Linked DNA regions of Homo sapiens. The protein of the gene in region 1 purifies or fractionates together with the protein of each later gene. This does not show direct contact. Each region holds a gene or a part of one and is shown in the gene's direction. Other genes may lie near its edges.

Region 1 (5,032 bases):
TGGGGGGGCTTTTCATGTGTGTCCCCAGGCTCTAGCCTGCTTTTCTCCTGCCTCCTCTTGTCCCACCTCACTTGGTCAGGATGACCCTGTCAGAATCTCCCTTCACTCCATGTGAGGACATCAGAGATGAGCGAGGCACAGACCTGCCCTCAGCCCCCATCTCATACAAGACCACAGAGCCAGGAGCAAGCTAAGCAAAGGCGGGAAGCAGATGCTGGCTGGCTGCTGGGCCTGCGGAATATGTTGATGCTCCTGAGGTGGGATTTGTACAGGGTGTCAGAAAAGAGGGAAGGTTGTCTGAGAGAAGCTGGAATGTGCAAGGCCTGCCATGCCCAGGGTGAGGAGTTTTGAACTCTTACTCTGTACACAGTGGGGAGACGTGGGAAGTTTTTGAGCAGGGGAATGACCCAGTTAAGGCTGACTTGCAGAGGAGTGAAGGATGGACTGCATTGGGAAAAGGCTGAGGGCCGATCTGTTAAGAGGCTGTTTCTGTTTCAGTAAAGACAGATTCAAGATGATGAGGGCCTGAATGAGGACATCCTTCCCTCCCCCTCACCCAAAGCAGCTCTTGATTATGAAAGAGTGAGTGGGCCTCTGCTGGGCACTGCAGATGGGGGATGGGGATGGTGACCCAGGCCCTGGTCTCAAGGAAACAGACATGTAACCCACCAGTTATAGTTCTTCCTGCGAACAGAGCCAGGTCTGGGGGCAGTGGGGGTAAAGGGAGCCTGACCATCCTTGCTAGAAGGAAACTTTCTGGAATTCCTACAGTAGGTCCTTATTCAGCCTTTCTGTACCCTAGACTCTGTACAGGTGGTTCATGCTGCTCTTTATTTCTTCTTCAATGTCCTGGGCTCTTAGCTCTGCCCAACAGACCTGCCTATAGCAGGACAGAATCCCATACTCATTTATTTCTTTGAATTTACACATACAGTCATGCCTTGCTTAACAATAGGGACACATTCTGAGTAGTGCAATTTCATCACAGTGTGAACATCATAGAGTATACTTACCCAAACCTAAATGGTAATAGCCTACCACACACCTAATCTATATGGTATAGCCTGTTGCTCCTAGGCTAGGAATCTGTATAGCACGTTATTGCCCTGAATACTGTAGGCAATTGTAACATAATGGTAAGTATTTATGTATCTAGACATACCTAAATACAGAAAAGGTCATTTGTTGCACTATGATGTTGAGACAGTTACAACGTCACAAGAGGATAGGAATTTTTCAGCTTCATTATAATCTTATAAGACCACCTCATACATGCAGTCTATCGTTAACAAACACATCATTGTGTAGCGCATGACTGTAGGTTACACATGGTTGGGTCACTGTGTATATGATTGATATGGTCAATAATATCAGTATTTAGAGCAAAACTCAGACCTCGTAAATAATGTCGTGCTTTACCCTTCTTCCCCACTTGACCTCTCTGGGGCTCTGTACTGTGTCTGCCTCTACTTGACCTCCCCCAGCTCCTGTCCTTAGCCCCAGAGTCTTGGGAAAGTTCTGGATAGTGAAGGGCAGCAGCCTAATGCTCTTCTGCTCCCAGGGGGAGGTATTCGATCCTCCTCTTTAAGGACACCCTGGAATCTTCAGTCCATGGGCCCTGGATGTGGGTCCTCCACAGATGGCCCTCTGCCATCTGTATTCATTATCCTCTGCTTACACCTTTCAAAGCTCTAGTGCTGCTTTCCTTACAGAGCCTTCTTGGATTCCTCCCAGCTGGGTGTGATCTCATCTTCCTTTGCCTCTTCCCCCCACTCTGATCCTACACCTGCCTTCTGGTCTGGGAGGGTATGAGGGTGATCTAGAAAGGACCATGGCAGCTTGTCACAGGAGGGAGCTCCTTTTGTGGAAGAGAAGCTGGAGGTCAGGTTGGAGAAGTAGAGCTGAATGCCACTTGCCACACTGTTCTTTATATGAAGAAGTCTGTGGGCTATATTTCATCTGAAACTGCTGGATTGTGCACCTCCTGAAGGGCAGGGACAAGGTTGTGTTCTCTACCGTCTTTTACCCTGTTCCACAGCACAGCGGCACTTACTTGTTTTTTGTGACTCTTTCTTTGCTTTTTATTGACTTTTCAGTGTACCTGAAGTAAGCAGTCCAGAGGCTTTCACACTCCCCTTGGCTATATCAGAGGGAGGCCAGGTCTCTTCTCTTTCCTCCCTCCCTCGCTCCCTCCCTCCCTCCCTTCCTGTGTGACATCCATTTCCTCCCTTCTCCCCTGAGGCACTTAAGTTCATCCATCTCTGGTTCCTCAGAAGTGGAAGCCTGGCCTCCTACCTGTCAGCAGTGTGAGCAGGTGGTCCTGCTCCTGGGCTTACCCCAAACTTGAGCCTGAGGAACTGCTCACCCGAAACCTAGGGCACAAGGCAGACTAGAGGCACATCTGTCCAGGCTCAGGCCAAGCCATGTGAGGAGTTGTCAGGACTGGGACTGGGAAAAGTGAGGCCTCCTGTTCTCCCGGTGGAGATCACATTTCCTTCAGCACAAAGTGGGTGAAAGACAACACCCCTACCCATCTCCCTTCTCCCAGCAGGGGGCTAGGCCTCTGCTGAGTGCTTACCTCAGTTGTTCATCAGCCCAAGCAGTCTCTAATAAAGGAAGCCTGGCAAGATCAGTCTTGGGCCTCAGACTGCCTGCCCTTTTTCTCCAGGATTTATTTATTCATTTGACAAACAGCATCTGCCATATCCTGAGTCCTCTGCTTGGCACAGGGAACACTTAAGCAGTCATGGTTCCTGCCCATGATGACAGAGTCGGGGTAAACTGTGGCAATAGGGTGGTCAGTGCTGTGAGACAGGAAACTACAGGGGCTGCAGGAGACCAGAGGACAAACAGCCTGGAGGATCTGAGAAAGACTTCCAGAGGAAATGGCACCTGATCATAGACTTAAAATATCAGTTGGACTTTGTAAATAGAAGGGGAAGCCATTCCAGGCAAAAAGGGCAGCATATGTGGTAGCATAAGGCAAGGAGCAGCCTGGGGGGTATGCAGAGGGGAAGTCACTTGCTGTTCGGTGTTGCTGGATCACAGTCTGAGGCCAGGAGGGACTGGAGACAGGTAGCGACCTGGTCGTGGAGAACATTGATTGACTCTCCGTTTGTCCCTCAGTCGCCCATCTGTCCAGCCTGTGCTTTGTGCCTAGCCCTGAGCTGAATTTGTGGCAACAAAATGAGGAAGGAGAAACAGTCCCTGCCCTAGAGGAGCTCGTGTGCCCTCTGGTGAGGAAGAAGGACATGAGTCAAACATTGAGAGCCAGTGAAACAAGGAACAAATTACCTACCTTCCAACTAACATGAAGATGATAATAACTAACCCCACAGAGTGGCAGAGTCATTATTACTAATAACAAAATGATTAATTCATTCAGCCAATACTTACGAGTGCATATTCAGAGCTAGGCATTGGGCTGAATGTGGCAGTTAACAGTAACGAACAAGATTGGCACAGTCCCTGCCCTCTTGGCACAGTCTAACTAGGAGTCAGATAACTAATTATGCAACTGTAAAATTAGTAGAAAGAGTTTACTGGGGCCAAGTTTGAGGACTGCAACCCAAGAGTCTAGATTCAAGTTGCCATAAATATATGCTCCAGATTAGCAACAGTTGCAAGTGTGTTTTTAAAGGGAAAAACAAGAGACACTTTTTTGTTGTTTTTGAGACAGAATCTCAGTCCGTCACCCAAGCTGGAGTGCAGTGGCACGATCTCGGCTCACTGCAACCTGCGCCTCTTGAGTTCAAGTGATATTCATACGTCAGCTTCCCGAGTAGCTGGAATTAGAGGTGCATGCCACCACACCTGGCTAAGTTTTTTTTTGTGTTTTTTTTTGTTTTGTTTTGTTTTTTTTGAGACGGAGTCTCATTCTGTCCCCCAGGTTGGAGTGCGGTGGTGCGATCTCGGCTCACTGCAAACTCCGCCACCCGGGTTCATGCCATTCTCCTGCCTCAGCCTCCCGAGTAGCTGGGACTACAGGTGCCCGCCAACGCGCCCGGCTAATTTTTTGTATTTTACAAAGAGACAGGGTTTCACCATGTTAGCCAGGATGGTCTGACCTCGTGATCCGCCCGCCTCGGCCTCCCAAAGTGCTGGGATTACAGGCGTGAGCCACCACGCCCAGGGTATTTTTGTTTTTTTTTTAAGTAGAAATGGGGTTTCACCATGTTGGCTAGACTGATCTCGAACCCCTGACCTCAAGTGATCTGCCCACCTCGGCCTCCCAAAGTGTGCTGGGATTACAGGCCTGAGCCACCACGCAGAAGAGGCACTTTCCAAGTTGTTTACCAAGAATTTACATTAAAATAACAAGCTATTGTTTGGCTATACATTGTTCTTTGTATCACATATTCCAGGAACTACAGGAAAATAATGGGTGAGGCAGCTAGTTAGGAAACTACAGGGTAGAAAAGAAAGAAAAAAATGGCTTTAAACAATTGCCCCCAGGCATGGGGCAAGGGTGTGGGGTTATGGCTGAGCGCCTATACTCAGGTCTCTCTGGGCCCGATACATTTTGCATAAAAATATGATAGAACAGTACATCAGAATATTATTCATCAATTCAAAGGAAGCACTGATACGTGCTACAACATGGATGAACCCTGAAAATATGCTAAGTGAAAAAAGCTAGTCACCGAAGGCCACTGTCTTTGTCTGTTTGGGCTGCTATAACAGAATACCGCAGATTGAGTGGTTTATAAACAGCATAAATGTATTCCTCTCAGTTCTAGAGATCAAAGTCCTAGATCAAAGCTTCTGGTAAATGAGACTGAAGTGAACTCTTAATGATGAAGAGAAAGGCGGAAGACAGTTCAGTTAGAGGGAACAGCAGGTGGAAGGTCCTGACTCAAAGATGTGGAGAAATTGAGGAATTGAGAGAAGGCCAATAAGGCTGGACCCTAGAAAGCAAGGGGGAGAGTGGTGTCAAATGAGGTTGGCGAGTTAAGCAGGGACCATACCACACTGGGTCTGTAGGCCATATTAACAGTTTTTATTTTTGTCCTAAGAGCATGGGCAACCGTTG
Region 2 (3,500 bases), on another chromosome or scaffold:
GCGGGCTAAGGATCTGTAGTTGGAACCAGGCAGTCTGATCCCTGGGCACGCACTCAGTCACTCTGCATAACCTCTGCATCATGCATTGTGTACTCTTGCTGATGGAAGGAGCAGCTAGGTTTCCTTCATGCTTTAGAGTTTACACCATGCTTTTACCTGAGGTAAGAGGGCGTCCTGTTACCCCTGTTTACTGATGAGGAAACTGTGGGGTAATCAGGACACCAGTGCCTGTTCTCTGTCTACCATGATGTAGACAACTAGAACCAGAGAGCAAAAGTTCACCCCCTCCGTGATGATCAGGGATTTAGAACACACAGGGGTGTTGGTAAGTTCAGAAGGATTGGGGGATCCGTTGTCATTTTTTCACATACCCCTTGGAAACACTATTTCTAATTCCCCCAGAGTGAGACACTAATGGAATAACTTGCTTACTTTGTGTCTGCATCCTAAGGGCAGGGCTTTCTGTTTCATTGAATGATGTGTCTGCAGCACCCTGCACCATCCCTGGTGCATGGCAGGCACTCACAACACGGTTGACAAAGGGACGACTGAACAGCTTCACACAATAGCATATCTGTGGCTGGCCAAGAATTTCACATTTGGTTTTTTTCTAATTTGAGGTAGGAATGTTGGTGGCGGGATGAGATGGAAGCAAGGTATGAGGTGCCAGTCCCTTTGTGCTAATGGCTGACGGGTGCATGTTTGCCCTGTAGTTTCTATTATGTCTGCCAAACAAAAGTCACCTGTGTGAAAGGGGGTGGCTACCAATAATTCCCTCCACACAGGCAGGGGTCAGTGGTGCTGGGGACTGTGGTCACTGCACATGCTGCCTTTCTGGTGTCCAGCCTCCCATAGTTCAGCGGCATCAAACTGGTCATCTTCTGGTCACATTGGACAATCTGCCTACAAGAGTCTCTCATTGGAGTGACATTAAGGAAAGTAATTGTGAACTACACTTAGAGCCAAGATAACTTATTAAATCTTGTATTGGGAAAGATATAATGAACAGCTTTATTTTAAACTGTGATTGAAGTAGGATACCAACTGATGGTCATAACAACTATAATTTGTGCCTGAGACTTAAATAAAAAGCACGCATCTTGATTTAACCTAACTTTATATTACCTGATTCTCGGTAATAATTATTGAAAGACTTGCCTTTCTCCGCTTTTAATGTGTGTGCTGCTTTAGTTCTTTCAGAGGACAGTACTCTGACCTGCATGCAGCATTACGAGGAAGTCCAGACATCGGCCTCGGATCTGCTGGATTCCCAGGACAGCACAGGGAAACCAAAATGTCATCAGAGTCGGGAGCTGCCCAGAATCCCTCCCGAGAGCGCAGTGGATACCATGCTCACGGCGAGAAGTGTGGACGGGGACCAGGGGCTGGGGATGGAAGGGCCCTATGAAGTGCTCAAGGACAGCTCCTCCCAAGAAAACATGGTGGAGGACTGCTTGTATGAAACTGTGAAAGAGATCAAGGAGGTGGCTGCAGCTGCACACCTGGAGAAAGGCCACAGTGGCAAGGCAAAATCTACTTCTGCCTCGAAAGAGCTCCCAGGGCCCCAGACTGAAGGCAAAGCTGAGTTTGCTGAATATGCCTCGGTGGACAGAAACAAAAAATGTCGTCAAAGTGTTAATGTAGAGAGTATCCTTGGAAATTCATGTGATCCAGAAGAGGAGGCCCCACCACCTGTCCCTGTTAAGCTTCTGGACGAGAATGAAAACCTTCAGGAGAAGGAAGGGGGAGAGGCGGAAGAGAGTGCCACAGACACGACCAGTGAAACTAACAAGGTGGGCACTGGCGTTTTTGTTTTGTCTTTGTGGGTTCCTGTTCTGGTTAGGAATCTAGCTGGCCCTGGAGTTGTTCTGGGAAATATCTGCAAACACTTTCCAGTTTGTTGAATGATGAGAGCTGTTTTCATGTAAGCTGTGTTTGGCTTTTTCCCCCTCCAAGTAATAAAATACCAAAAACTTGTATTTATCAAATATTTCTCTCAGCACCTTACTTGGATATTTTCACATTTTTTCCATCATGTCTAATTAGGGCCAAATCTTGTTTGCTTCATTTTGATGTCCACAAATTAAATACAGAAACTGGACACTTTGCCCACACATTTTACCCATTCTGCTTGTTGGCTGCCTCAGCAGCATGGTGACCTTTCCCCTTCCAGGATCCCCAAAAATCAGCATGCATAGCAACAGGTACCATGGGAACCAACTCACAGGTGCCCCTGGTTATATCTGATTGTACAAACCTTCATATAAATCAGTAGGAGATCTTATTTTGTGACCCTTTCTAAACTATAGCCTATACTTCCTAAATTTAGATATTCAACAAAGCTGTAAAATGCATTAGCAATCCACACCTTCTGCATGTGTCTGATAACTTGATATCTGAGCCACGATGAAGTTCACATCCCTGGTTGTTAAAATCTCTTTGGGATTTAACTAGGCCCATCTACTTCAGGCAACTAATAATTAATTTCTGTTTTCTACACAGAAAAAGAGGAAGGTTCTCTCTTCTATTCAGTTTTAGTAGGAAGGACAAGTAGCAGGTTAGCCAGTCACTAGTAGCCTTAAAAACCTTCCGTAGTTCATGGCCAGAGGTGAACCCTCACTCTGTTTGTATAAATTAGACCAAGAAAATCATTCTTTGTGCTGTTCTCTGAATGCATTTCAACTTTTCATATTATCCATGAAATCAGCTGTTGAGAGCACCAATAAAAGGGTTTATGAACATGTTCATAAAATATAAAAATGCAGTCCAATTTTTTGCCCTTCATAGAACCAAAGACCATAAACCTGATGTAAAGTTCATGCTGCCTAAACCAGACAAAGCTTTTTACTTACAAGCATTAGAAAGATAAGACGTTGAGTTGTCTAACCATTGCTAGTAAACAGTTCTCCAGATTTCACGTTAAAAACTGGAAATAATCATCTGGAAATAAAATTATCCTTCCACAATATAGTAAAAATGAGTAATCCATCATCTTTATATAAACAACCCTAATTTTAAGTGAGTTGAGGGTTTGAAGTATTTAATATTCATTCATTTATTTAACAAAAGATCTTAATAAGCACCTGCTGTGTGCCACACAGTCTTCTAGTCCTGGAAACAAAACATGTACATGAACAAAATCCCTGCCCTGTGGAACTTACATCTTAGTGGGAAGAGACAGACATAAAGTTTAAAGTTTATAAGAGAAAAAAATAGAACCGAATAAGGGGAACTGAGAAAACAGGTGGGGAGTACAGTTTTGGATAGAGTGGTCAGGGTCTGCCCAGCTATGAAGGTGACGTTTGAGTTAAAGGATCCAAGGGGGTGAGGTTTGTGCTTTTGTGGAAAGAGCACGTGAAGCAGAGGGGATGCCCAGTGTGAGGCCCCTGAAGCTAGAGCTTGCAACTGGCTTTTTAAGGGAAGAGGAGGGGACTGCTGTGGGTGGAGAGGGAAGAGCAAGGACAGCAGTGAGGAGAAAGAGAACCAGAGCTCGATCCTGG

Evidence for each region. Proteins that work in one complex are often made in the same cells at the same time.
Region 2: the proteins of CLPB (region 1) and PAG1 purify together in Homo sapiens (affinity purification with mass spectrometry; 2 studies listed by BioGRID and IntAct, with this or other methods). This does not show direct contact.

What each region holds. Positions count from the first base shown.
Region 1 is NC_000011.10:72,423,716-72,428,747, reverse strand, and holds part of CLPB (mitochondrial disaggregase), read left to right. Parts: intron 1-5,032. UniProt on the Homo sapiens protein: Functions as a regulatory ATPase and participates in secretion/protein trafficking process. Has ATP-dependent protein disaggregase activity and is required to maintain the solubility of key mitochondrial proteins.
Region 2 is NC_000008.11:80,983,069-80,986,568, reverse strand, and holds part of PAG1 (phosphoprotein associated with glycosphingolipid-enriched microdomains 1), read left to right. Parts: intron 1-1,191; coding exon 1,192-1,793; intron 1,794-3,500. UniProt on the Homo sapiens protein: Negatively regulates TCR (T-cell antigen receptor)-mediated signaling in T-cells and FCER1 (high affinity immunoglobulin epsilon receptor)-mediated signaling in mast cells.